Regions from separate parts of the Homo sapiens genome. Here all the other regions are linked to region 5. Evidence: fine-mapped QTL for protein levels in blood plasma. A gene starts in region 5. Each other region holds a variant in brackets. All regions are shown on one strand. Distances are from middle to middle. Region 1 has its middle 29 kb from the start of ALOX5. Region 2 has its middle 14 kb from the start of OR13A1. Region 3 has its middle 40 kb from the start of MIR3156-1. Region 4 overlaps ZFAND4 (zinc finger AN1-type containing 4). Region 5 holds the start of MSMB (microseminoprotein beta).

Region 1 (5,106 bases), 700 kb before region 5:
AAGACACATAATTGTCAGATTCACCAAAGTTGAAATCAAGGAAAAAATGTTGAGAGCAGCCAGAGAGAAAGGTCAGGTTACCCACAAAGGGAAGCCCATCAGACTAACAGCTCATGTCTTGGCAGAAACTCTACAAGCCAGAAGAGAGTGAGGGCCAATATTCAACATTCTTAAAGAAAAGAATTTTCAACCCAGAATTTCATATCCAACCAAACTAAGCTTCATAAATGAAGGAGACATAAAATCCTTTACAGACAAGCAAATGCTGAGAGATTTTGTCACCACCAGGCCTGCCCTAAAAGAGCTCCTGAAGGAAGCACTAAACATGGAAAGGGGCAACCCATACCAGCCACCACAAAAACATGCCACATTGTAAAGACCATCGATGCTAGGAAGAAACTGCATCAACTAACTAGCAAAATAACCAGCTAACATCATAATGACAGGATCAAATTCACACATAACAATATTAACCTTAAAAGTAAATGGGCTAAATGTTCCAGTTAAAAGACACAGACTGGAAAACTGGATAAAGAGTCAAGACCCATCAGTGTGCTGTATTCAGGAAACCCATCTCACATGCAGAGACACACATAGGTTCAAAATAAAGGGATGGAGGAAGATCTACCAAGCAAATGGAAAACAAAGGCAGGGGTTGCAATCCTAGTCTCTGATAAAACAGACTTTAAACCAACAAAGATCAAAAGAGACAAAGAAGGCCATTACACAATGGTAAAGGGATCAATTCAACAAGAAGAGCTAACTATACTAAACATACATGCACCCAGTACAGGGGCACCCAGATTCATAAAGCAAGTCCTTAGAGATCTACAAAGAGAATTAGACACCCACACAATAATAATGGGAGACTTTAACACCCCACTGTCAACATTAGACAGATCAACGAGACAGAAAGTTAACAAGGATACCCAGGAATTGAACTCAGCTCTGCACCAAGCGGACCTAATAGACATCTACAGAACTCTCCACCCCAAATCAACAGAATATACATTTTTTTTAGCACCACACCACACCTATTCCAAAATTGACCACATAGTTGGAAGTAAAGCTCTCCTCAGCAAATGTAAAAGAACAGAAATTGTAACAAACTATCTCTCAGACCACAGTGCAATCAAACTAGAACTCAGGACTAAGAAACTCACTCAAAACCACTCAACTACATGGAAACTGAACAACCTGCTCCTGAATGACTACTGGGTACATAATGAAATGAAGGCAGAAACAAAGATATTCTTTGAAACCAATGAGAACAAACACACAACATACCAGAATCTCTGGGACATATTCAAAGCAATATGTAGAAGGAAATTTATAGCACTAAATGCCCGCATGAGAAAGCAGGAAAGATCTAAAATTGACACCCTAACATCACAATGAAAAGAAATAGAGAAGCAAGAGCAAACACATTCAAAAGCTAGCAGAAGGCAAGAAATAACTAAGATCAGAGCAGAACTGAAGGAAATAGAGACACAAAAAACCCTTCAGAAAATCAATGAATCCAGGAGCTGGTTTTTTGAAAAGATCAACAAAATTGATAGACCGCTAGCAAGACTAATAAAGAAGAAAAGACAGAAGAATCAAATAGATGCAATAAAAAATGATAAAGGGGATATCGCCACTGATCCCACAGAAATATAAACTACCATCAGAGAATATTATAAACACCTCTATGCAAATAAACTAGAAAATCTAGAAGAAATGGAAAAATTCCTCCATACATACACCCTCCCAAGACTAAACCAGGAAGAAGATGAATCTCTGAATAGACCAATAACAGGCTCTGAAATTGAGGCAACAATTAATACCTTACCAACCAAAAACAGTCCAGGACCTGAAGGATTCACAGCCGAATTCTACCAGAGGTACAAGGAGGAGCTGGTACCATTCCTTCTGAAACTATTCCAATCAATAGAAAAAGAGGGAATCCTCCCTACCTCATTTTATGAGGCTAGCATCATCCTGAGACCAAAGCCTGGCAGAGACACAACAAAAAAAACAATTTTAGACCAATATCCCTGATGAACATCGATGCAAAAATCCTCAATAAAATACTGGCAAACCGAATCCAGCAGCACATCAAAAAGCTTATCCACCATGATCAAGTGGGCTTCATCCCTGGGATGCAAGGGCTGGTTCAACGTACACAAATCAATAAATGTAACCCAGTATACAAACAGAACCAATGACAAAAACCACATGATTATTTCAATAGATGCAGAAAAGGCCTTTGACAAAATTCAGCAACGCTTCATGCTAAAAACTCTCAATAAATTAGGTATTGATGAGATGTATCTCAAAATAATAAGAGCTATCTATGACAAACCCACAGCCAATATCATACATCATGGGCAAAAACTGGAAGCATTCCCTTTGAAAACTGGCACAAGACAGGGATGCCCTCTCTCACCACTCCTATTCAACATAGTGTTGGAAGTTCTAGCCAGGGCAATCAGGCAAGAGAAGGAAATAAAGGGCATTCGATTAGGAAAAGAGGAAGTCAAATTGTCCCTGTCTGCAGATGACATGATTGTATACCTAGAAAACCCCATCGTCTCAGCCCAAAATCTCCTTAAGCTGATAGGCAACTTCAGCAGAGTCTCAGTATACAAAATCAATGTGTAAAAATCACAAGCATTCTTATACACCAATAACAGACAAACAGAGAGCCAAATCATGAGTGAACTCCCATTCACAATTGCTTCAAAGAGAATAAAATACCTAGGAATCCAACTTACAAGGGATGTGAAGGACCTCTTCAAGGAGAAATATAAACCACTGCTCAAGGAAATAAAAGAGGATACAAACAAATGGAAGAACATTCCATGCTCATGGGTAGGAAGAATCAATATCGTGAAAATAGCCATACTGCCCAAGGTAATTTATAGAGTCATTGCCATCCCCATCAAGCTACCAATGACCTTCTTCTCAGAATTGGAAAAAAACTACTTTAAACTACATATGGCTCTCCCTCTCCCTCTCCCTCTCCCTCTCCCTCTCCCTCTCCCTCTCCTTCTCCCTCTCCCTTTCTTTGTTTCTTCAGTCTCCCTCTGTTGCCGAGGCTGGACTGTACTGCCATGGTCTCGGCTCGCTGCAGCCTCCCTGCCCTGGGCTCCCATGGTTCCCCTGCCTCGGCCTGCCG[A/G]GTGCCTGGGATTGTGGGTGCGCGCTGCCATGCCTTACTGGTTTTTGTATTTTTGGAGGAGACGGGGTTTCACCATGTTGACCGGGCTGGTCTCCGGCTCCTGACCTCGAGTGGTCTGCCCGCCTCGGCCTCCCAGGGTGCTGGGATTGCAGACGGAGTCTCACTCACTCAATGCTCAGTGTTGCCCAGGCTGGAGTGCAGTGGCGTGATCTCGGCTCACCACAACCTCCACCTTCCAGCCGCCTGCCTTGGCCTCCCAAAGTGCTAAGATTACAGCCTCTGCCCGGCCGCCACCCCGTCTGGGAAGTGAGGAGCATCTCTTCCTGGCCGCCCATTGTCTGGGATGTGAGGAGGGCTTCTGCCCGGCTGCCCCATCTGGGATATGAGGAGCGACTATGCCTGGCCACCCCATCTGGGAAGTGAGGAGCGCCTCTGCCCAGTCGCCCCATCTGGGAGGTGAGGAGCACCTCTGCCCAGCCGCCACCCCATCTGGGAGGTGAGGAGCACCTCTGCCCGGCCACCACCCCATCTGGGAGGTGAGGAGCACCTCTAACTGGCCACCTCCCCGTCTGGGATGTGAGGAGTGCCTCTGCCCAGCCGCCGGGTCTGGGAAGTGAGGAGTGCCTCTGCCTGGCCACCCCATCTGGGAAGCGAGGAGCGCCTCTGCCCAGCTGCCACCCCATCTGGGAAGTGAGGAGCGTCTCTGCCTGGCCGCCCATCGTCTGGGATGTGAGGAGCACCTATGCCTGGCCGCCCCATCTGGGAAGTGAGGAGCGCCTCTGCCCGGCTGCTCTGTCTGGGAGGTGAGGAGCGCCTCTGCCCGGCTGCCACCCCATCTGGGAGGTGAGGAGAGCCTCTGCCCAGCTGCCACCCAATCTGGGAGGTGACAAGTGCCTCTGCCTGGCCACCATCCCATCTGGGAGGTGAGGGGCCTATCTGCCCAGCCACCCTTCGTCTGGGAGGTGGGGAGCACCTCTGCCCGGCCGCCCTTCATCTGGGAGGTGGGAAGCGCCTCTGCCCGGCCACCCCATCTGGGAAGTGGGCGCCTCTGCCTGGCCATCCCATCTGGGAGGTGAGGAGTGCCTCTGCCCGGCCACCCCGTCTGGGAAGTGAGGAGCATGTCTACCCAGCCACCCCGTCTGGGAGGTGAGGAGTGCTTCTGCCTGGCCGCCCCATCTGGGAAGTGAGGAGCGCCTCTATCTGGCCACCCCTTCTGGGAAATGAGGAGTGCCTCTGCCCAGCTGCCCCGTCTGGGAGGTGAGGAGCGCCTCTGCCCAGCCGCCACCCCATCTGGGAGGTGAGGAGCGCCTCTAACCGGCCACCTCCCCGTCTGGGATGTGAGGAGCACCTCTGCCCGGCCGCCAGGTCTGGGAAGCGAGGAGTGCCTCTGCCTGGCCACCCCGTCTGGGAAGCGAGGAGTGCCTCTGCCCGGCTGCCACCCCGTCTGGGAAGTGAGGAGTGTCTCTGCCTGGCCGCCCATCATCTGGGATGTGAGGAGCACCTATGCCTGGCCGCCCCATCTGGGAAGTGAGGAGCGCCTCTGCCCGGCCGCTCTGTCTGGGAGGTGAGGAGTGCCTCTGCCCGGCCGCCCTGTCTGGGAGGTGAGGAGCACCTCTGCCCGGCTGCCACCCCATCTGGGAGGTGAGGAGAGCCACTGCCCAGCTGCCACCAAATCTGAGAGGTGACAAGCACCTCTGCCTGGCCACCACCCCATCTGGGAGGTGAGGAGCACCTCTGCCCGGCTGCCCCATCTGGGAGGTGAGGGGCCTATCTGCCCAGCCACCCTTCGTCTGGGAGGTGGGGAGCGCCTCTGCCCGGCCGCCCTTCATCTGGGAGGTGGGAAGCGCCTCTGCCCGGCCACCCCATCTGGGAAGTGGGCGCCTCTGCCTGGCCATCCCATCTGGGAGGTGAGGAGTGCCTCTGCCCGGCCACCCCGTCTGGGAAGT
Region 2 (5,106 bases), 720 kb before region 5:
CTTTTTAAACAAATGAGAATTTACAAGATGTGTGATTTTCTAATTCTATCATATGTCAGCAACCTCTTTCCATCTAGAAAGACTGAATGTGGCAAATGTTCTCTTTTATTTTTTTAATCTCTTTTAACTTATTTATTTTTATTTTTCTTATTATACTTTAAATTCTGGGGTACATGTGCAGAATGTGCAGGTTTGTTACATAGATATACATGTGCCATGGTGGTTTGTTGCACCCATCAACCTGTCATCTACATTAGGTATTTCCCCTAATGCTATCCCTCCCCAGCCCCCCATAGCCCAACAGGCCCCAGTGTGTGATACCCCCCCAACCCGTGTCCATGTGTTCTCATTGTTCAACTCCCACTTATGAGTGAGAACATGTGGTGTTTGGTTTTCTGTTCTTGTGTTAGTTTGCTGAGAATGATGGTTTCCACCTTCATCCATGTCTCTGCAAAGGACATGAGCTCATCATTTTTCATGGCTGCATAGTATTCTGTGGTGTATATGTGCCAGATTTTCTTTATCCAGTCTATCATTGATGGGCATTTGGGTTGGTTCCAAGTCTTTGCTATTGTGGTATTTCTAGTTCTAGATTCTTGAGGAATCACCACACTGTCTTCCACAATGGTTGAACTAATTTCCACTCCCACCAACAGTGTAAAAGTGGTCCTATTTCTCCACATGCTCTCTAGTATCTGTTGTTTCTTGACTTTTTAATGATGGCCATTCTAACTGGCATGAAATGGTATCTCATTGTGTTTTTGATTTGCACTTCTCTAATGACCAGTGATGATGAGCTTTTTTTCCTATGCTTGTTGACTGCATAAATGTCTTCTTTTGAGAAGAGTCTTTTCTTATCCTTCACCCACTTTTTGATGGAATTGTTTGTTTTTTCTTGTAAATTTGTTTAAGTTCTTTGTAGATTCTGGATATTAGCCCTTTGTTAGATGGATAGATTGCAAAAATGTTCTCCCATTCTGTTGGTTGCCTGTTCACTCTGATGGTAGTTACTTTCGCTGTGCAGAAGCTCCTTAGTTTAATTAGATCCCATTTGTCAATTTTGGCTTTTGTTGCCATTGCTTTTTGTGTTTTAGTCATGAAGTCTTTGCCCATGCCTATGTCCTGAATGGTATTACCTATGTTTTCTTTTAGGGTTTTTATGGTTTTAGGTCTTACATTTAAGTCTTTAGCCCATCTTGAGTTAATTTTTGTATACAGTGGAAGGAAGGGATCTAGTTTCAGCTTTCTGCATATGGCTAACCAGTTTTCCCAATGCCATTTATTAAGTAGAGAATCCTTTCCCCATTGCTTGTTTTTGTCAGGTTTGTCAAAGATCAGATAGTTGTAGATGTGTGGTGTTATTTCTGAGGCCTCTGTTCTGTTCCATTGGTCTATATATCTGTTTTGGTACTAGTACCATGCTGTTTTGGTTACTGCAGCCATGTAGTATAGTTTAAAGTCAGGTAGTGTGATGCCTCCAGCTTTGTTATTTTTGCTTAAGATTGGCTTGGCTATGCAGGCTCTTTTTTGGTTCTATATGAAATTTAAAGTAGTTTTTTCCAATTCTGTGAAGAAAGTCAGTGGTAGCTTGATGGGGATAGCATTCAATCTATAAATTACTTTGGATATTATGGCCATTTTCACGATATTGATTCTTCCTATCCATGAGCATGGAATGTTTTTCCATTTGTTTGTGTCCTCTCTGATGTCATTGAGCAGTGATTTGTAGTTCTCCTTGAAGAGGTCCTTCACATCCCTTGTAAGTTGGATTCCTAAGTATTTTATTCTCTTTGCAGCAACTGTGAATGGGAGTTCACTCGTGATTTGGCTCTCGGTTTGTCTGTTATTGGTGTATAGGAATGCTTGTGATTTTTGCACATTGATTTTGTATCCCAAGACTTTGCTGAAGTTGCTTATCAGCTTAAGGAGATTTTGGGCTGAGATGATGGGGTTTTCTAAATATACAGTCATGTCATCTGCAAACAGAGACAATTTGACTTCCTCTTTTCCTAATTGAATATCCTTCATTTCTTTCTGTTGCCTGATTGCCCTGGCCAGAACTCCCAATACTATGTTGAATAGGAGTGGTGAGAGAGGGCATCCTTGTCTTATGCCAGTTTTCAAAGGGAATGCTTCCAGTTTTTGCCCATTCAGTATGATATTGGCTGCTGTGGGTTTCTCATAAATAGCTCTGATTGTTTTGAGACATGTTCCATGAATATCTAGTTTATTGAGAGTTTTTAGCGTGAAGGGCTGTTGAATTTTGTCGAAGGTCTTTTCTGCATCTATTGAGATAATCACATGGTTTTTGTCATTGGTTCTGTTTATGTGATGCATTACGTTCATTAATTTGCATATGTTGAACCAGCCTTGCATCCCAGGGATGAAGCCAACTTGATCATGGTGGATAAGCTTTTTGATGTGCTGCTGGATTCGGTTTGCCAGAATTTTACTGAGGATTTTTGCATCAATATTCATTAGGGATTTCGGCCTGAAATTTTCTTTTTTTGTTGTGTCTCTGCCAGGCTTTGGTATCAGGATGATGCTGGCCTCGTAAAATGAGTTAGGGAGATTCTCTCTTTTTCTATTGTTTGGAATAGTTTCAGAAGGAATGGTACCAGCTCCTTTTGTACCTCTGGTAGAATTCAGCTGTGAATCCGTCTGGTCCTGGACTTTTTTTGGTTGGTAGGCTATTAATTACCACCTCAATTTCAGAGTTTGTTATTGGCTTATTCAGGGATTTGACTTCTTCCTGGTTTAGTCTTGGGAGGGTGTATGTGTCCAGGAATTTATCCATTTCTTCTAGATTTTCTGGTTTATTTGCATAGAGGTGTTTATAATATTCTCTGATGGTAGGTTGTATTTCTGTGGGATCAGTGGTGATATCTCCTTTATCATTTTTTATTATGTCTATTTGACTCTTCTCTCTTTTCCTCTTTATTAGTCTGGCTAGTGGTCTATCTATTTTGTTGATCTTTAAAAAAAAACCAGCTCCTGGATTAATTGATTTTTTTTTTTTAATGAGAGATAAATTGTTTAATTTTAGGTTCAGCAGTTGAACAAGCTTTTTGTGGTTTGGTGGCAGTTTTCTGCCTTGGCATTACAAGGTTACCTCTTGCTAACAATCATAGCTTTTGATAGACTTAGATAAATGTGTTCAAACAGCTTTTCTCTGTTTGAAGATGCCTGGCTCT[CT/C]TTTTTTTTTTTTTTTTTTTAAGACATTTCCAAAGCCTACAGTTAGTGTCTCCATCTGGGCAAGAGAAAACATGTGAAAGTCTCATTTATGCTGGAAGATAGGGTAGGGTTGAGAGTGATGGTTACAAGAATTTTAACTTTACATCTACAAGAATGTGGTACAGATTAAGTCCTTGATAATCATGTTGTATATTTAAAAACATCTATAGATGATTTTATGTAGAATGGGAATTTTAACATTTTATTTGTGTTTATTTCTTTTTTTATTTTATTTTATTTTATTTTTATTTTTATTTATTTATTTTTTTATTGATCATTCTTGGGTGTTTCTCGCAGAGGGGGATTTGGCAGGGTCATAGGACAATAATGGAGGGAGGGTCAGCAGATAAACAAGTGAACAAAGGTCTCTGGTTTTCCCAAGCAGAGGACCCTGCTGCCTTCCGCAGTGTTTGTGTCCCTGGGTACTTGAGATTAGGGAGTGGTGATGACTCTTAAGGAGCATGCTGCCTTCAAGCATCTGTTTAACAAAGCACATCTTGCACCACCCTTAATCCATTTAACCATGAGTGGACACAGCACATGTTTCAGAGAGCACAGGGTTGGGGGTAAGGTCACAGATCCACAGGATCCCACGGCAGAAGAATTTTTCTTAGTACAGAACAAAATGAAAAGTCTCCCATGTCTACTTCTTTCTACACAGACACGGCAACCATCCGATTTCTCAATCTTTTCCCCACCTTTCCCCCCTTTCTATTCCACAAAACCGCCATTGTCATCATGGCCCCTTCTCAATGAGCTGTTGGGTACACCTCCCAGACGGGGTGGTGGCTGGGCAGAGGGGCTCCTCACTTCCCAGTAGGGGCGGCCGGGCAGAGGCACCCCTCACCTCCCGGATGGGGCGGCTGGCCGGGCGGGGGGCTGACCTCCTACCTCCCTCCCGGACGGGGCGGCTGGCCGGGCAGAGAAAACCAGTCAGGCGTGGCGGCGCGCACCTGCAATCGCAGGCACTCGGCAGGCTGAGGCAGGAGAATCAGGCAGGGAGGTTGCAGTGAGCCGAGATGGCAGCAGTACAGTCCAGCTTCGGCTCGGCATCAGAGGGAGACCGTGGAAAGAGAGGGAGAGGGAGACCGTGGGGAGAGGGAGACGGAGAGGGAGACGGAGAGGGAGAGGGAGAGGGAGAGGGAGAGCGATTAATTGATTTTTAAGGGTTTTTCATGTCTCTATCTCTTTCAGTTCTGCCCTGATCTTAGTTATCTCTTGTTTTCTGCTAGCTTTTGAATTTGTTTGCTCTTGCTTCTCTAGTTCTTTTAATTGTGATGTTAGGGTGTCGATTTTAGATCTTTCCTGTGTTCTTTTGTAGGCAATTACTGCTATAAATTTTCCTCTACACACTGCTTTAAATATGTCCCAGAGTTTCTGGTACATTATTCTTATTGTTTTCAAACAACATCTTTATCCTTCTTCATTTCATTATTTATCCAGCAGTCATTCAGGAGCAGGTTGTTCAGTTTCCATGTAAGTGTGAGGTTTTGAGTGAGTTTCTTAATTCTGAATTCTAATTTAATTGCGCTGTGGTGTGAGAGACTGTTTGTTATGATTTCCATTCTTCTGCATTTGCTGAGGAGTGTTTTACTTCCAATTATGTGGTCAATTTTAGAATAAGTGCGATGTGGTGCTGAGAAGAATGTATATTCTGTTGATTTGGGGTGGAGAGTTCTATAGATGTCTATTAGGTCTGCTTAGTCTGGAGCTGAGTTCAATTCCTAGATATCCTTGTTAATTTTCTGTCTCATTGACCTGTCTGATATTGACAGTGGGGTATTAAAATCTCCCACTATTATTGTGTGGGAGTCTAAGTCTCCTTGTAGGTGTTTAAGAACTTGCCTTATGAATCTGGGTGCTCCTGTATTG
Region 3 (5,106 bases), 920 kb before region 5:
GGTGAATTACAGCAAGGGAATGAAGAGGAGGACTTAGGGCAGGCAATTGCTCACAGCCAGGGCTAGGACAGCAGGTGGCACAGGGGCATGCCCGCCCTTGTGCTGCAATGGAGGCAACATACTGTGCTGTGCCCATTTCCAGGATGCAAAAATGCCACCTACCCTCAGGCCAAAGGGTCCCCAAAGAAACCACATGGAATGAGTCACAGCAAAATGAAGCTGAGTAGCATTGCTTCTAAAAACCTGACATACTGCTATTTTAAAAAAAGGAGGTTTTTGTCTGTTGCCGTAACAAATGAAAATGCCTGGTCAGATGTTCACAATGTCGTATATTTCTACAGCTTTTTAAAATAAAGCATAGAAGGATAGAGGATGGTAGAGGATATTAAAATGAGCTTGTCACTTAGATAACTTAGTATGTTACATTACTACAATTAAGTTACTAGAAAAACCACTAAAAACCTGAGAATAGATGAAAATGAGTGAGATTATTCATTATATATACGGGAGAGGGAAGGACCACTTATGAGAAAATGGTGAAAGTAAACATTTCCTTGCCCCAGCATTTGATGAATATGATACTGAAAAACAAGTGCCCCTCTTTGGCCTGAATGAAGCAAGGGAGAAAAAAAACAAATTAGCAGAAACGTGATGAAATATGACTTGGGGCATCCGTGGTCAAAGTGAAAGCACAGGCTTTTTAATCTCTAGCCATAATAACTGGAGAACATTAGTCCATTCACAGCACAAAGGTGGTGTCTAGACTAATTATAGACATGCCAAGTCTTTCAGCAAATCATAGTTCTCGATGCCATTTTAATGATTTTACATAAAGAAGAATCTTCTCACTCTCGCGTAGGAATAATTAAACTATTCAGCACTTTATATGCAAAAAAGGTCATTTGTAGTTATACTGATTAATTACCTTCAAGTCCTCCTAAGCACTTTATATGCAAAAAAAGGTCATTTGTAGTCATAGTGATTAATTACCTTTGTTTTCTGGCCAAAAACACAAGGTGGATAATGAACTTATTACATATTACCATAAGAGTTTGAAATTCGAAAGTATACTAATGATAACTGGCTTCACAGATTTTACGGAATTTCACCCAAAGCAGCTATTAAAGCAGTGAATTACAGTAGTTCTAGGTTATTTAAAGTTTATGAAACAGTGAAACAAATTCTCATTTAAAAGGTTCTACATGTTCCTCAAGGTAAACATAAAATAGCAAAATATCGAAGCATCTACCCCAAGAAAGGCCAACAAATATTATTAGCTTTATAAATAACAAAGTTCTCCAAATATTATTAGTTTTATAAATAACAAAGGCAATGCTACTTTCAGTTAATAAACAACAAGTATTTACTGAGAACCTGTGCCCCGAAAGCACATGCTCACTCTATGCTATTATGAGCCGCCTCAGGATTCTATAGCCTAAGTTATTTAGTAAACAAAAATGTCCCTGGCTTAACTCACTGCAACACAATGGTCCTACTCTTTCAGCAGCAATGTGAAAATGAATTGCATGAAAATTAGAGAAAAAAGGTATAAGCAAGTAATAAGGTAGATTTTAGTGTATAAAGCCAAACGTGCAAAAATATATGTTCCTGAGCTATAAAAAGGTGTATGCATAACCAAACAAATCTCCTAAAAAACTGACAAGCATAGATTTCTTCTCCTCTGAGCATATAAAAATTAGTTAATTTCTGAATCTTGTGTTAACTTCCAAAGCATCTTCAGGAGGACATATGAACTCTGAATTCTTGCAGGAACACCGCTTCTAAATTGCACTCCAGTTCTGATGCGCTACCCCTCCAGCAAAGCCATACATGAATAAAGAGCTTTAATTGGGGAGCTGGGAGGGAGAAGCAGCGCTGAGAGGAAAGGAAGTGGCATTCAATGGCATTCAGTGGCCTGGGGAGGAAGTGACATCCAGCGAAGGGTAAGAAAAGGAAGGGTAGGAAAAATGCCCAGGAAATTCCAAAACACCGGGAAGAGAGAGAAAGAGAATATGAAAAAAAACTTCAACCCATCAATGGAGAATAACAAGCTCAGTGTTATAAAAGGAGTGATCTAGGCTCTTTTATATGAGTACATGTCTTTATTATGTATAATATATATGAATGTATATCTATATGTAAGCCTCGATTATTAACATTACGAGGTAGACAGTAAGCAAGTCACATTCTATCTTGCACTCTCTTACACGCACACATAAAAAGCATGTTTTGTCATTAGTTTCTGTCTTCTTTTACAATTAAGAATTAATCTAGGCTGGGTGCAGTGGCTCACACTTGTAATCCCAGCACTTTGGGAAGCTGAGATGGGTGGGTTGCTTGAGCCCAGGAGTTTCAGACCAGCCTGGGCAACAGGGCAAAACCCCACCTCTACAAAAAATTAGCTTGGCATGGTGGTGCATGCCTGTAGTCCCAGCTACTCAGGAGCCTAAGGTGGAAAGATCACTTGAACCTGGAGGTTAAGGCTGCAGTGAGCCGAGATTGCACCACTGCACTCCAGCCTGGGCAACAAAGTAAGGCCCTGTCT[CAA/C]AAAAAAAAAAAAAAAAAAAAGGAATTAATCCAGCAAGAGGCCAAAACTGGACTGCTTCTTTTCCTACTGGACCTTATCTTTAGGGTCACTGCATGAGGAGGGCAGGAATGGGAGGGAAAGGAAGAGGCCCAGGGCTGGGAAAATCCACCAAATCCACATGGGAGCTTTGATCTTCCCCTTTGAACTAACACAGCTATGGCTTTTAACCTTAGGAAATGTCCCTGTTCTTCTAATGGAATGAGTAAGGATCCAGAGCCACAGGAACACTTTGTCCATGGCGTTCCTAGATTGACCTGATGGGGCATCTCAAGTGCACAAGTGCACACACACATCACTTGCAGAGACAGCAGGGGACATGGTGGAGCAGCCACTTGGAAGCCATGCAGAAAGCTCTGTCGTTCCCTCGTTCTGGTCACTTAACCACTTTACACCTGTTTCCTCCACGTGATATAGAGTGGGGGTTCAACAAATTTGCTCTTTTCCCTTTCATCTCCTGCTGAAGTTATTACATAGGTGTTGTTCTTGATGGTCCCCAGGCTGTGGGGTACCTTGTATTTCTTTCCACACATTGCTGGTTCAGTTGGATGAAAAGGAGGGCTTCACAGAGAAAGATGAGCATTCATCTCAACTTTCTGAAGGATGAGCAAAATTCAGAGAGAGGGGTAGGAACTTAAGATTTTAGAAAAAAACAGGTAACTAGAACAAAAAATATATAGGCAGGGGAAAAGAAGCTAAAGAAATAGCAAAAAATTAGACAAAAGAGGGTTCAGACTGAAAACAGCAAAATGCAAGGTCCATTAGTTTGTTAACTGGTTATCAATTGTATTCAAGTGGTTTTGGCCTATGAGGCTGACTGACGAAGAAAGCGAAAAATGGAAATGGGAAAGGTATTCCATTTAAAAGTATCTGCATGTGTCCACACCATGTTCCATTCAAGCCTGGGAGCTAAAGATTACAAATTCTTATTTAACCAAATGTAAATTTAAGCAGATAAATAAGGTGGCACTTATCAACAATTTTTAAGAAGCCATTAAGAATGAGTTCTGTGATGCATTAAAAATTATCTAAAGTTTTAAACAAATTTCCAAGAAGCATCTCCTTTAAGAAATAGCATCACTAGGCCAAGGCAGATAGATAGCTTGAGGCCAGGAGTTCAAGACCAGCCTGGCCAACATGGTGAAAGCCGTCTCTACCAAAAACAAAAACTAGCTGGGCATGGTGATGCATGCCTGTAGTCCCAGCTACTAGGGAGGCTGAGGCAGAAGAATCACTTGAACCTGGGAGACGGAGGTTGCAGTGAGCCGAAATCATGCCACTGCATTCCAACCTGGATGACAGAGTGAGACCCTGTCTCAAAAAAAAAAAAAAAAATAGCATCACTATGTCCACACTGCGTACAAACATACTAGTGTTATCTTCACCCAACTCTGGAGTTTCTAAATCTGAGCTACGTAGACCTCTAAAAAATTCATGGATGAACACAATGGGATCCATAAGCCTGCTGAAATTAGAACCATCACGTGCACTTCTCTATGGATCAGGGTTGTAGTTTTCACTCTATTATTTAAAAAAGTCAGTGACTTAAGAAAAGTTAAGAAGGCCAGGCACAGTGGCTCACAGTGGCCTGTAATTCCAATACTTTGGGAGGCCGAAGAAGGAGGATCACTTGAGCCCAGGAGATCGAGTCCAGCCTGGGCAAATTAGCCAGGCGTGGTGGTGCACATCCATCTAGGAGGCTTGCTTGAGCCCAGGAGTTTCAGGTTACAGTGGGCTAGGATCATGCCACTGCACTCCAGCCTGGGTGATAAAGACACTATCTCTAAAAAATAAAAACATAAAAAAAGAGAAGAGATGCTCTAGAAGAATGTATGTACCTAAGTATCGCACTTCTTAGTGTATCTCCTCTAACATCCTGTACATACACTCACATGTACACACACACCAAGTTATTTAGGAGAGAGTGCATCAACTGAAAATCTATGTATAATATTTTGCTATTACATCAATTCTGTTTGATAGACATTCTATCATCAATAGCAAAAGAAATCTTTTTCAGGATCAGCCGTGCACATGGGCTAACTAGGAGTTGGAAAGTGACAGACTTACACTCCCCCATCTTATTTTCTCCACAGCCTGCCACCGTTCTGAAGTTCTCACGATTGGGGTGGTTCCATTTAAAAATATACTGTGGAGGAATTAGCATGTTAGCTAGCTGCCACTTAGCACAGTACAGGACCTCAAGAAAAAGGATTCTGGAACAGGTACATTTTGGTTGGTGGGGCCGAGAACAAAGAGAATGGGGGCAAGGGGGTGGCCACAGTCTACAAGCTGAGAATAGATAAGATGCCATCGGGCGGACACTTCTTCAACTTCACCCGCTGGCCTTGGGTTGCACTGGTTCTGGGTCCCTGGGTCAACAGATCCTCCCATGGGACAATCTCAGGAGCTCACTCACTAAAGACAAAAATAGCAACACATGCCCAATTGCCAGTGATTTCTGCTCCTCTCCCTTCTGCCACCCTCCACCCTATTAAATGAAAAGAACATTCCATGCTCAT
Region 4 (5,106 bases), 430 kb before region 5:
TCCTCACTATTAGGGAGGCTGAGGCAGGGGGATCGCTTGAGCCCAAGACATCAAGGCTCCAGTGAGTTATGATTACAGTACTGAAAAAAAAAAAAAAAAAAAAAAGTCCGCAGCAGCAGTTATTTTAATTCAAGCCTAGCCCCAATCTAAGGGCAGACATCCAAGATAATATGACATAACATCCTTGGAGGATATCAATCAATACTAATGAAATAAATAATTACAGTAAGAAAAAGGTCATACTTTTTTGGAAATATATTATTCATCTATTTTATATTAACTTTTAATTTTTTAATTAAATTTTTAATAGAATATTCAGGGAGGGGTTCTTCCAAGGTGCCACTCAAACAAAATCCAAGCAGGTTCATCATAAGACGAAAAAGGTACACTCTCAGATTGGTTTAAACCTCCTAACTTAAAGGACAAGGAAGGATCTGTTTTTGTCTTTTGGAAACCCATGAGCTATCTACTTGTTCTTTACTTCAGCCAATTAGAAGTTCAACTGAAGATAGCTATTGAACATCATCTTAATGATGTTATAAACAGGCAATTTAAATATTTTATTTTGCATAATCCCCAAGCTGGGTTATCACAGAGAAAGCATCTGAGCTTCTCCAGCTCGCCAACCTGCCTGCATTCGTAGCTACTAGCCAGTCCTGTTTTCTTTCCACAAAGAAAACAATGATTTGTTGTTTTCTTCTTTGTCTGAAGAGGGGCTTTCACAGGTGGGAGGTGATGAGTAGTACATTCTCCTGTTTAGAGAAAGGACACCTTGATTAACACAGGCATAAAATCCTAAACATGAAATATTATTAAGCAAAACACAAAACATAGTCCTATCAAAGTAAATATCTATGCCATAAAAATTAATTTGTGCTATTTTTATATCTAAAATTACTTATAAAATCTACAGGTCAAGTTGCAGTGGAACTATTTCTTTTAAGATGTGGTAGGTTTCTACTGATTAGCACTTATATTTTTAGAACTTTTTATACACACCACTTTCCTCATTATTTCTAATGGTAATCAGTTTATATAAAGTACACCAAATTTTGACAGAGAATAAAGAAAAATGTCTGCTTCAAAATCATATTTGATGAAGCCTCTGAGAACATGATTGCAATATAAATATTCTGTTTGTTCACACCAAAAAGAAGTACCAGAATATCATGAAACATGCCTTTTAGTCCTATTACACCACTGACAGTTCATCAAACCATGAGCAAGTCATTTATTCTTTCAAAACTTCAATATGTTTATTTTTAACATAATAGAACATGTATTTTTCTCTCTAGGTTAATAAGCACTTTAAGGTCAACTCAATCCATATATGTAAAAAGCACTCTGAAAGTTTTAAGCATGTTATAATTACATAAAATGTCATATTAATAATAGTAACTAACAGTACACAGCTCAATTTCACAGTACTACTAGTTTTCCAAAAATATTTACTGAATTCTGTATTACTGTATCAACTTGAGTTTTTACCTTAAAAATAAGAGCACATCTGTTATTATATAAGAAAGAATTAAATCAATTTTTTTTTTTTTTGAGACATTTTGCTCTGTCGCCCAGGCTGTAGTGCAGTGGCGCAATCTCGGCTCACTGCAAGCTCTGTGTCTTGGGTTCAAGTGGTTCTTCTGCCTCAGCCTCCCGAGTAGCTGGGACTATGGGCACGCACCACCACGCTCAGCTTTTTTTTTTGTATTTTTAGTAGAGACGGGGTTTCACCATCTTGGTCAGTCTGGTCTGGTCTTGAACTCCTGACCTCATGATCCGCCCATCTCAACCTCCCAAAGTGCTGGGATTACAGGTGTGAGCCACCACGCCAGGCCAAATCAATTTCTTTAATTACTAAGTTAAATGTCTTTTAGAACTGATCAAAATGCCAACAAACCCCAGTCATAAGCAGAGAGGCTCAAAGTTCCTGCCCATAGTTGATAAAGTAACAGTACAAATACACATGTGCTTGGTGTCACACAAAGGCTAAGAAGCAAGAGGCAAAGAAAGAATGCAAGAACAAGTGGAAGGAGTGAGGAAAAACTGGTAGTGTCAATGGTGCTGGGACCTTTTCTCCACTACTGAAAAAGGTTTAGGAGGCCTAAGCTTGGTATTTAGTTGGCAGCTAAAAGTCTGAAATTTCTTAAAGGGTTCAAAAAATTGGATTTACAATTAATTGGTTCTATGTCTTTTTTTTTTTGTCACAACAGAGATTAGGTAATTTGTACACAAGCCCAGCAAAATTAAATCTTCTTTATTACCAGTATAAAATACACTTCCAGATCTTGCCAAAACTAGAAACAAAATTTGAAACAATTGAGAGACTCCTAATGGTGCCTGGGTACCAACTCAGTTAATAAACGTTTTCTTTCTCAAGTGCACTTAGAGATACCAAGAACATCTCACAAAGGTGAGGGAGTAATTCCATTATTTAAAGTATTTTTAAAAAGATATTTACTTGCACTTGCACAAGACACCAAAGAAAGGCATATATTACAAGATGTCCAATGAATGTTAATCTACTCGAAACCATCTTTAAAATTCAGGCTTAGGATATTCTTCCTTAAACAATGGTGGAAGAATCTCTGATG[A/G]TAATTTAATTCACTGTAGTCACATTTTCATTTTTTTTCTTTTCTTAGGGGATGCTTAACTTGATATTCTCCATACTTTTTTTCATTTAAGAACTCTTGTGAGGCTGGGCGCGGTGGCTCACATCTGTAATCCTAGCACTTTGGGAGGCCAAGGTGGGCGAATCAACTGAGGTCAGTTCAAGACCAGTCAGGCCAACATGGTAAAACTCCGTCTCTACTAAAAATACATAAATTAGCTGGGCATGGTAGCACGCGCCTGTAGTCCCAGCTACTCAGGAGGCTGAAGCAGAAGAATCACTTCAACCCGCGAGGAAGAGGTTGCAGTGAGCCGAGATCGTGCCACTGCACTTCAGCCTAATCAGGTAACAGGGCGAGACTCTGTCTAAAAAAAAAGAACTCTTGCGAATGTGTAGAGACAGAGAATACATTAGTGACAGTAATGAGGTAGCACAAAAATATAAGTGCAGTACTCTATGAGAGCAGCCTCCATACATCCTTCTACCAATAGAGAAAACTATTAGCAACTACTGTGTACTAGGAACCATCAATAAACATATTGATTCCCCACTATAAACAGGAAAAATCTAAATTCCTTGGACTGGCATTTAAGGTATTATTATGTCCAATATAATGCCTTTCTAACTATCCAGAGACACTGTAATTTACCATGTCATACCTACCCCGAAGGATGTACCAAGTCCTTCCACATCTGCAATCTCTTCTAAAGTAAACTCTACCTTGTCAACCCAGTAGAATTTGACTTATCCTGTAAGACATCATCAATTATCAACTCCTCTCTGAAGCCTTCTCTCAAATGTGTACTGAACAGATGAATAAAGAAAAAAACCCATAAAATCATATTGATGGTAAGAGTTGCTTTTCACAACAAGATGAAAGGTACTTGAGGTAATTCACTTGCTTGCCATTTCCTAGTCTCATATTTTATCTAACATCTAACAGGATCTACAAAAACTGACCCAACAGAAAGGCAGCAAAAAGTAATAAATCAGTGTTCCAGACGCAAGGCTGGTAGTCGTCTGCCTAAAATCAATGGCTAAATCTATAATAATGAATACAGTTTCCAAGGGAAACCTTATAGTGAAAAGAACAGAGGACCAATGGAGGAATTTAGGAAGTCAATTAAATGAAACTTGCATCAAAATGTATATAGACTCTTCTAGATAATTCAGAATGATAGTTATTACAGTGAGAGAAAAATGGAAGCAAGTTACACAGCTCTACTGCAGCTAGCAGCTGATACTTCAAATCTAAATGAAATCAAACAAAAAAGCATATATCTGGGGACAAGCAGAGGGCTGGTTAAAAAAAAAAAAAAAAGGACAGAAGAAAACTGAGGTTAAGGCCAGGCGCAGTGGCTCACACCTGTAATCCCAGCACTTTGGGAGGCTGAGGTGGGCGGATCCCGACGTCAGGAGATCGAGACCATCCTGGCTAACACAGTGAAACCCCGTTTCTACTAAAAATACAAAAAATTAGCCGGGTGTGGTGGCGGGCACCTGTAGTCCCAGCTGCTCGGGAGGCTGAGGCAGGAGAATGGCGTGAACCTGGGAGGTGGAGCTTGCAGTGAGCCGAGATCGTGCCACCGCACTCCAGCCTGGGAGACAGAGTGAGACTCCACCTCACAAAAAACAAACAAACAAACAAACAAAAACTGAGGTTAAAAAAAGATTAAAACAAAAGTAAAAATTTATAACAATGTGATAGCCTAGAATTTTTTTTAAAAAAAACTATTTCAAGAATGAAGGACACAAAAATCAAATAAGATAAAGATATGGAGGCATCCAATGGATTTGAAATTATGGAGATTGTCAGTGACCACGGCAATAGCAGTTTCAGAAGAGCAGTGAGACGTGAACCAGCACTGAAGACTGAACTAGAGCTGAGTGAGTAGGGATGGGTGCAATGCAAATTTCCAAGAAGATCAGTTGTGCGTTAGGGCAGGACAGAGTTATGTGTCAACGAAAAACAACAACTATAACATTAAAAGTCAATAAATTACAGTAATAAAAACGATGTGATACTGGCATAAAACAGACACATAGACCAATGAGTAGACAGTCCAGAAACAAATCCTCGTATACATGATCAAATGACTTTCAACACGGGTGCCAAGACCATTCAATGAGGAAGGACAGTGTTTCAACAAAAGTTAATAAGAAAATGGGATGTTCACATGCAAAAGAATGAAGTGGAACCCTTACTTTACACTCTATTTTAACTCAAAATGGATCAAAGACCTAAACATAAGACCTAAAACTATAAAACTTCTAGAAGAAAAGATAGGGGAAAAGCTTCATGGTATTGGATTTGGTGGTGATTTCTTGGATATGACACCAAAGGCACAGGTAACAAAAGGAGAAAATAGACAAACTGGATTTCCTAATGTGTCAGGCATCGGATTTCCTAATGTGTCAGGCATTCTGGACTTTCCAGTGATGCCACTGAGATAGCACCTGTCAAAAGAGCAGTGGTTCCATTTCTAGATTGTGGATCT
Region 5 (5,106 bases):
TAGGAAACACAATCTAGGAGCCAGTGCCTCAGTGTCTTTACCTAGTCTCCCAGGTGAGAACCCAGGAACAATGACCAACCCAGTGCTGCTTTAATGTGCATATAAATTCCTGGGAGTTTTTTTTGTTTTGTTTTGTTTGTCTGTTTGTTTGTTTCTTTTTGGGACGGAATCTCGTTCTATCGCCTAGAGTAGAGTTCAGTGATGCAATCTTGGCTCACTGCAACCTCCGCCTCCCGGGTTCAAGTGATTCTCCTGCCTCAGCCTCCTGAGTAGCTGGGATTACAGGAGTGCACCACCACACCTGGCTAATTTTTGTATTTGTAGTAGAGACGTAGTTTCATCATGTTGGCCAGGCTGGTCTCAAATACCTGACCTCAAATGATCCGCCCGCCTCGGCCTCCCAAAGTGCTGGGATTATGGGCGTGAGCCACCGCGCCCAACCAGACAGCCTGTTAATTAACCTGCAGATTCTGCTTCAGTAGGTCTTTAGACTTACACGGAAGCTCCCAGGTGATGCCCACGCTGCTGGTCTGAGGTCCACCCCTGAGTAGAGAGGCTCTAAAGCTTTTTTCATTCCTGTCTTCTATTCTGCCACCAGCCTTCCTTCCCTTTGTGTCTTCCTTTCCTGCATTTAGTAACCCTGAGCTCCTGATGTGTGCAGGAGATTACACCACGACGCCAGAATGGGCTAGGATTTTCTAGATGGTACAGCGAGCCTTGAGGTGAAGCAGGCTGGCAGTATCCTTAGAAGTTGTGTCTCTTGGCTGGGCGCGGTGGCTCACGCCTGTAATCCCAGCACTTTGGGAGGCCGAGGCGGGTGGATCATGAGGTCAGGAGATCGAGACCATCCTGGCTAACATGGTGAAACCCCGTCTCTACTAAAAATACAAAAAATTAGCTGGGCGTGGTGGCGGGCGCCTGTAGTCCCAGCTACTCAGGAGGCTGAGGCAGGAGAATGGCGTGAACCCGGGAGGTGGAGCTTGCAGTGAGCCGAGATTGCGCCACTGCACTCCAGCCTGGGCGACAGAGAGACTCCGTCTCAGAAAAAAAAAAAAAAAAAAAAAAAAAAAAGTTGTATCTCTTTAGGTAAATTACTGCTCCTGGAAGGGTTATCCCATGATCAAGAGTTGGGGGTCTGGCCAGGCATAATTTCTCACACCTGTAATCCCAGCACTTTGGGAAGCCAAGGTGGGAGGATCACTTGGGCCCAAGAGTTAGAGACCAGCCTGGGCAACATAGTAAAAACTCATCTCTACTACAAATAACAATAATAAAATAAATAAATAAATAAATAAAGAGTTGGGGGTCCTCAGGATCTTAGGCAGGCAGAGGTATTGCCAGCTCTGCAGCTTGCTAAGTTCACTGTGAGGCTGCATAGAGTATAGGCTGGAGGAGCCTGTCTAGTGGAGATGGGGAGGACCTCCCACCCCACTGTTGTTTTACCATCCCCAGTTCTGCCTCCGGACAGTTTCTGAGAGCAAGTTTGTCTTGCCGAGTGGCCCAGAGGAGGCCCGGGGTCCCCTCCTGAGGACCCTCTCCCACCTCCCTTGGCTCCTCCCACTTGGCTGGCTGTTTCTTGCCTCATCTCCCTTGCAGCCCCCAGAGCAGCCCAGTTCAGTCCCCAGCGTTAGTAAAGAATGTTTTAAGAAAGATCAAGTTTAAGACACAAGAAAAGCCTGCATGGGTTTTTATAAATTTTGAAGCAAAATTCTTTCTTGGCCAGGCACAGTGGTTCACACCAGTAATCCCACCACTTTGGGAGGCTGAGGTGGGCAGATTGCATGAGCCCAGGAGTTCAAGACCAGCCTGGGCAGCATAGCAAAATCCTATCTCTAAAACAAATACAAAAATTAGTCGGGCATGGTGGCACTCGCCTGTGGTCCCAGCTACTTGGGAAGCTGAGATGGGAGGATCACCTGAGCCCAGGAAGGTCCAGGCTGCAGTGAATCATGACTGCACCACTGCACTCCAGCCTGGGCAACAGAGTGAGATCCTGTCTCAAAAACAAACAAATAAACCAACAAACACAGCCCCAAACCCAAGATTTTTCCTTAACACATGATACAGTGAAAAGGGCCTAGGGAAATGGTTCCCAAACTTGAGTATTAAAATGACCTGGGCAGCTTTTTAAATTGATGCTCTGTTCTCACTGCAGCCCAATTAAATCAGAGTGTCGGGGTGGAAGATGGGTGTCAGTGTTCTTCAAAATTCCCCCGGAGTTTCCACTGCACAGCCAAGTTTGGGAGCCCCTGGCAGGGAGAGAGGAATGCCTGGGTTCCTATCTCAGCTCATTCACAGGCTTGCGGTGAGACCCCAGTGGCAGCTTCTTCCCCTCCCCAGGCTCAGTTCCCTCATCTCAAAAACGATGCAGTCATGTAGCTCTGAAATTATTTTTAATTTCAAATTACTCACATAGGACCCAAGAATTAGAGACACTTATGAAATCTAATTGAACCCCAGAATTACTGGAAGGAAAAACAACTTAGATCTTAGAGAACAGAACTAGTGCTAAACTCATTACAATTTTCGCAAGCTCTCAGACTCTCATACTCTGCACATTGAATTGCAGGTAATAACATAAGGTTCCTAACTAGGTCACATTTACCATTCAATGCTATGTGGTAGAAGCACACGCATATTAAAATAGGAATACATATTCTCTTTTGCTTTTCTAGCCTTTATATATAAAACCAGTTACCTACCATTGTGATAAGCAGGACTCCTTATAGACAGGTACATCCAGGCAAAGCTGCATCAAACTTTTATACTGGAGAGGGCAACCACGCATTCGACATCATTGGGAATGATAACAAGGTGAGAACACATTGAGTGTTTACAGAGGGTTGACTATCAAAAGGAAAGTATGGTTTCAGATGATTTATGAGTTATTAATCAATCACATCTCCACCCAAGTTATGTGTTTACCTTGTCCCCACCCCGATCTGCATTTGCTGCTGACCTAAAAGAGCAGAGGAGGAGAGAACTTCTCTTTGCTGAGCCTTCGCCCTATGCTGGTGGATTGCTAGCACGTGATGTGTCCTTATTCGATTTTATACACAAAGAAACAGCCTCAGCGATGCCAGTCACAACAGCCAGGTGGTAAAGGTGGGTTTCCTGAAGGCATAAGAATAGCCCACAGGTCAGCCCACCAGGCCCACCGGGCCTGGGTCTGTGGCCCAGATGACCCTGCCCTTAGGGTCTGACATGAGAACAGAAATGGGTCAAGCCATCCTGCAGGGCACAGGAGAGCAAGAACTACATACAGCTCGGGGTTCCCTGACAAGCTGAATTGCTGGACCTTTCTAGAGCCCTTCTTGAATCTGTAGTCTACTCCCTGCTGCATCAAGCAAGCCTTGTTTCTCTTTGTTCCACAGTGGTCTCCTCCCAAACAACCGCACCTGCCCTCATCATGGCTAGGATGGCCTTTGGGGAATGGCAACAAGCAGAACCTCCTAGGGTGCTGGAGGGACTTACTACTTTATCTGTTTGCTCTGCCACCACAACAAAACACTGCAACTGGGTGGCTTTGACTAAAGAAATTTATTTGCTCACAGTTCTGGAGACTAGAAATGTGAGGTCAAGCCATTGGGGAAGGCTTGTTTTCCTCTGAGCCCTCTCTCTTTGGTTTGCAGATGGCCATGCTCTTGCTGCCTCTTACATGGCATGCATCCCTGGCATCTCTCTCTGTGTCCAAATTTCCTCTTCTGATAAGGACACTAGCTGTATTGGATTAGGGTCCACTCTAACTATCTCATTTTACCTAAGCCACCTCTTTAAAGGCCGTGTCTCCATTACAGTCACATTCTGGGATATTGGGGGTTAGGGCTTAAACCAATGAATTTTTAGGGGATGCAATTGAGCTCATAAGACAATTTTATCCCAAAAAGTCCCCTCACTCCTCGCCACAGCTTGCTACAGTTCCTAAAATTTAACCTGAGATCCCTCTGCCCACAGATGAGAGTTCATGCTCCTAACCAGGGGATCCTTGAAGCTCATCTGAGCTGGCCACAGTGGCCCTTTCCAGCACCATCCTCTACCCTCCCTAAAATCAGCCTCACCACCCCTAACACAGCTTGAGGTCACTCTCCTGCTCCTTAGAAGAGCTGTAGTGCTGTCTGGCTGCCTCCTCACTCACCAACGGTGCCACACACTTCTGCCTTTACCTGCATAAGTTAAGTGTTCATCGACTCTAAGTTCCAGGAAATCGGGGCACATTCATCATGCACTGTAGCCCCTTGGATTCTTTTAAAACTCCAAGTTTGAAGAACTTCCCACAGTGTGAAGTGGGAAGTTCTGCCTTACATTGAGAGGAACTAGGATTTGCTGCCCTCACCTGCTTACCTCCAGGGTACAGGCACAAACCTCGGCTCCACAAACACTCTCCTCTCAAAAAGTCCTCTTCAGAGAGGGTCCAAGGACACTGGCATCATGCAGAATCTCCCTAGGAATGATGGTGTGGAGGGTTCTGGCTCTTAGGGCAAGGGTTTCTTGGAGTCCAGTGTGCAGTGTCAGTGCATGGGGGCTGTGACTGTGACTGGTAGCAAGGTGGTCTTGCTGGAGCCAAGCAGCAGTGTGGTTTCAGTGCTCTACCTGAACTTGTGCCAAGAAAGCCTGTGTCTCTGGCCGTTAGTAGAGGCTTGAATTCTCTAACAAATCTCTTTCCACCTCAAATGACCTAGAGTAAATTCTATTGTTTGCAGTTAAGAACTTTGTGACCCAGACAGTGACTGTGACCTATTCCTGTCTGTGTGCCTTCCAGTGACCAGCAGGGTGCCTGGTGCAAAGCAGCTGCCCAGAACAGGATTTCACCTGGGTTATCTCAGGTATTCCCAAGTAGAAAGTATCCTGGCAAGACCAACCCATATCACTGCTGAAATGAGCTCATCTACTGCTCCCCAGGGGTTGAGAAAGGGATGCTCAGAGCAGGTGTGGCCAGCTGCCCACAGGGAGGAAGGCAAATGAAATGAGCAGTGCTCTCCGGGTGTGTGACAGCCAGCTCTGTCCAAACCTGCCTGATCAGTTTTCAGTGTTGATCCTACCTCAACTGTCATCCTTATAGATGGAACCAACTTAATTTCTTTTAATTATTTATTTTTCTTTTTATTT

The links. PIP is the posterior inclusion probability: the model's chance that the variant is causal. Sun 2018 read protein levels with aptamers (SomaScan).
Region 1: its variant is fine-mapped to the plasma level of the MSMB protein (Sun 2018, PIP 0.95).
Region 2: its variant is fine-mapped to the plasma level of the MSMB protein (Sun 2018, PIP 0.95).
Region 3: its variant is fine-mapped to the plasma level of the MSMB protein (Sun 2018, PIP 0.95).
Region 4: its variant is fine-mapped to the plasma level of the MSMB protein (Sun 2018, PIP 0.95).

The regions. Positions count from the first base shown.
Region 1 is chr10:45,343,147-45,348,252 of GRCh38, forward strand. No RefSeq gene overlaps it. Among named protein-coding and RNA genes, the nearest start is that of ALOX5, 29 kb to the right of the region's middle. RefSeq lists a silencer at 660-861. The variant A/G (reference allele first, on the strand shown) is at 3,161.
Region 2 is chr10:45,326,597-45,331,702 of GRCh38, forward strand. No RefSeq gene overlaps it. Among named protein-coding and RNA genes, the nearest start is that of OR13A1, 14 kb to the left of the region's middle. The variant CT/C (reference allele first, on the strand shown) is at 3,195.
Region 3 is chr10:45,121,667-45,126,772 of GRCh38, forward strand. It overlaps the pseudogene RSU1P2. Among named protein-coding and RNA genes, the nearest start is that of MIR3156-1, 40 kb to the right of the region's middle. The variant CAA/C (reference allele first, on the strand shown) is at 2,546.
Region 4 is chr10:45,617,509-45,622,614 of GRCh38, forward strand. ZFAND4 (zinc finger AN1-type containing 4) reads right to left here. Exons shown (of 10, transcript NM_174890.4): 9 at 632-752. Among named protein-coding and RNA genes, the nearest start is that of ZFAND4, 53 kb to the right of the region's middle. The variant A/G (reference allele first, on the strand shown) is at 2,592.
Region 5 is chr10:46,043,533-46,048,638 of GRCh38, forward strand. MSMB (microseminoprotein beta) reads right to left here and starts at 2,737. Exons shown (of 4, transcript NM_002443.4): 1 at 2,703-2,737. The coding sequence starts at 2,705. RefSeq lists an enhancer at 686-1,187.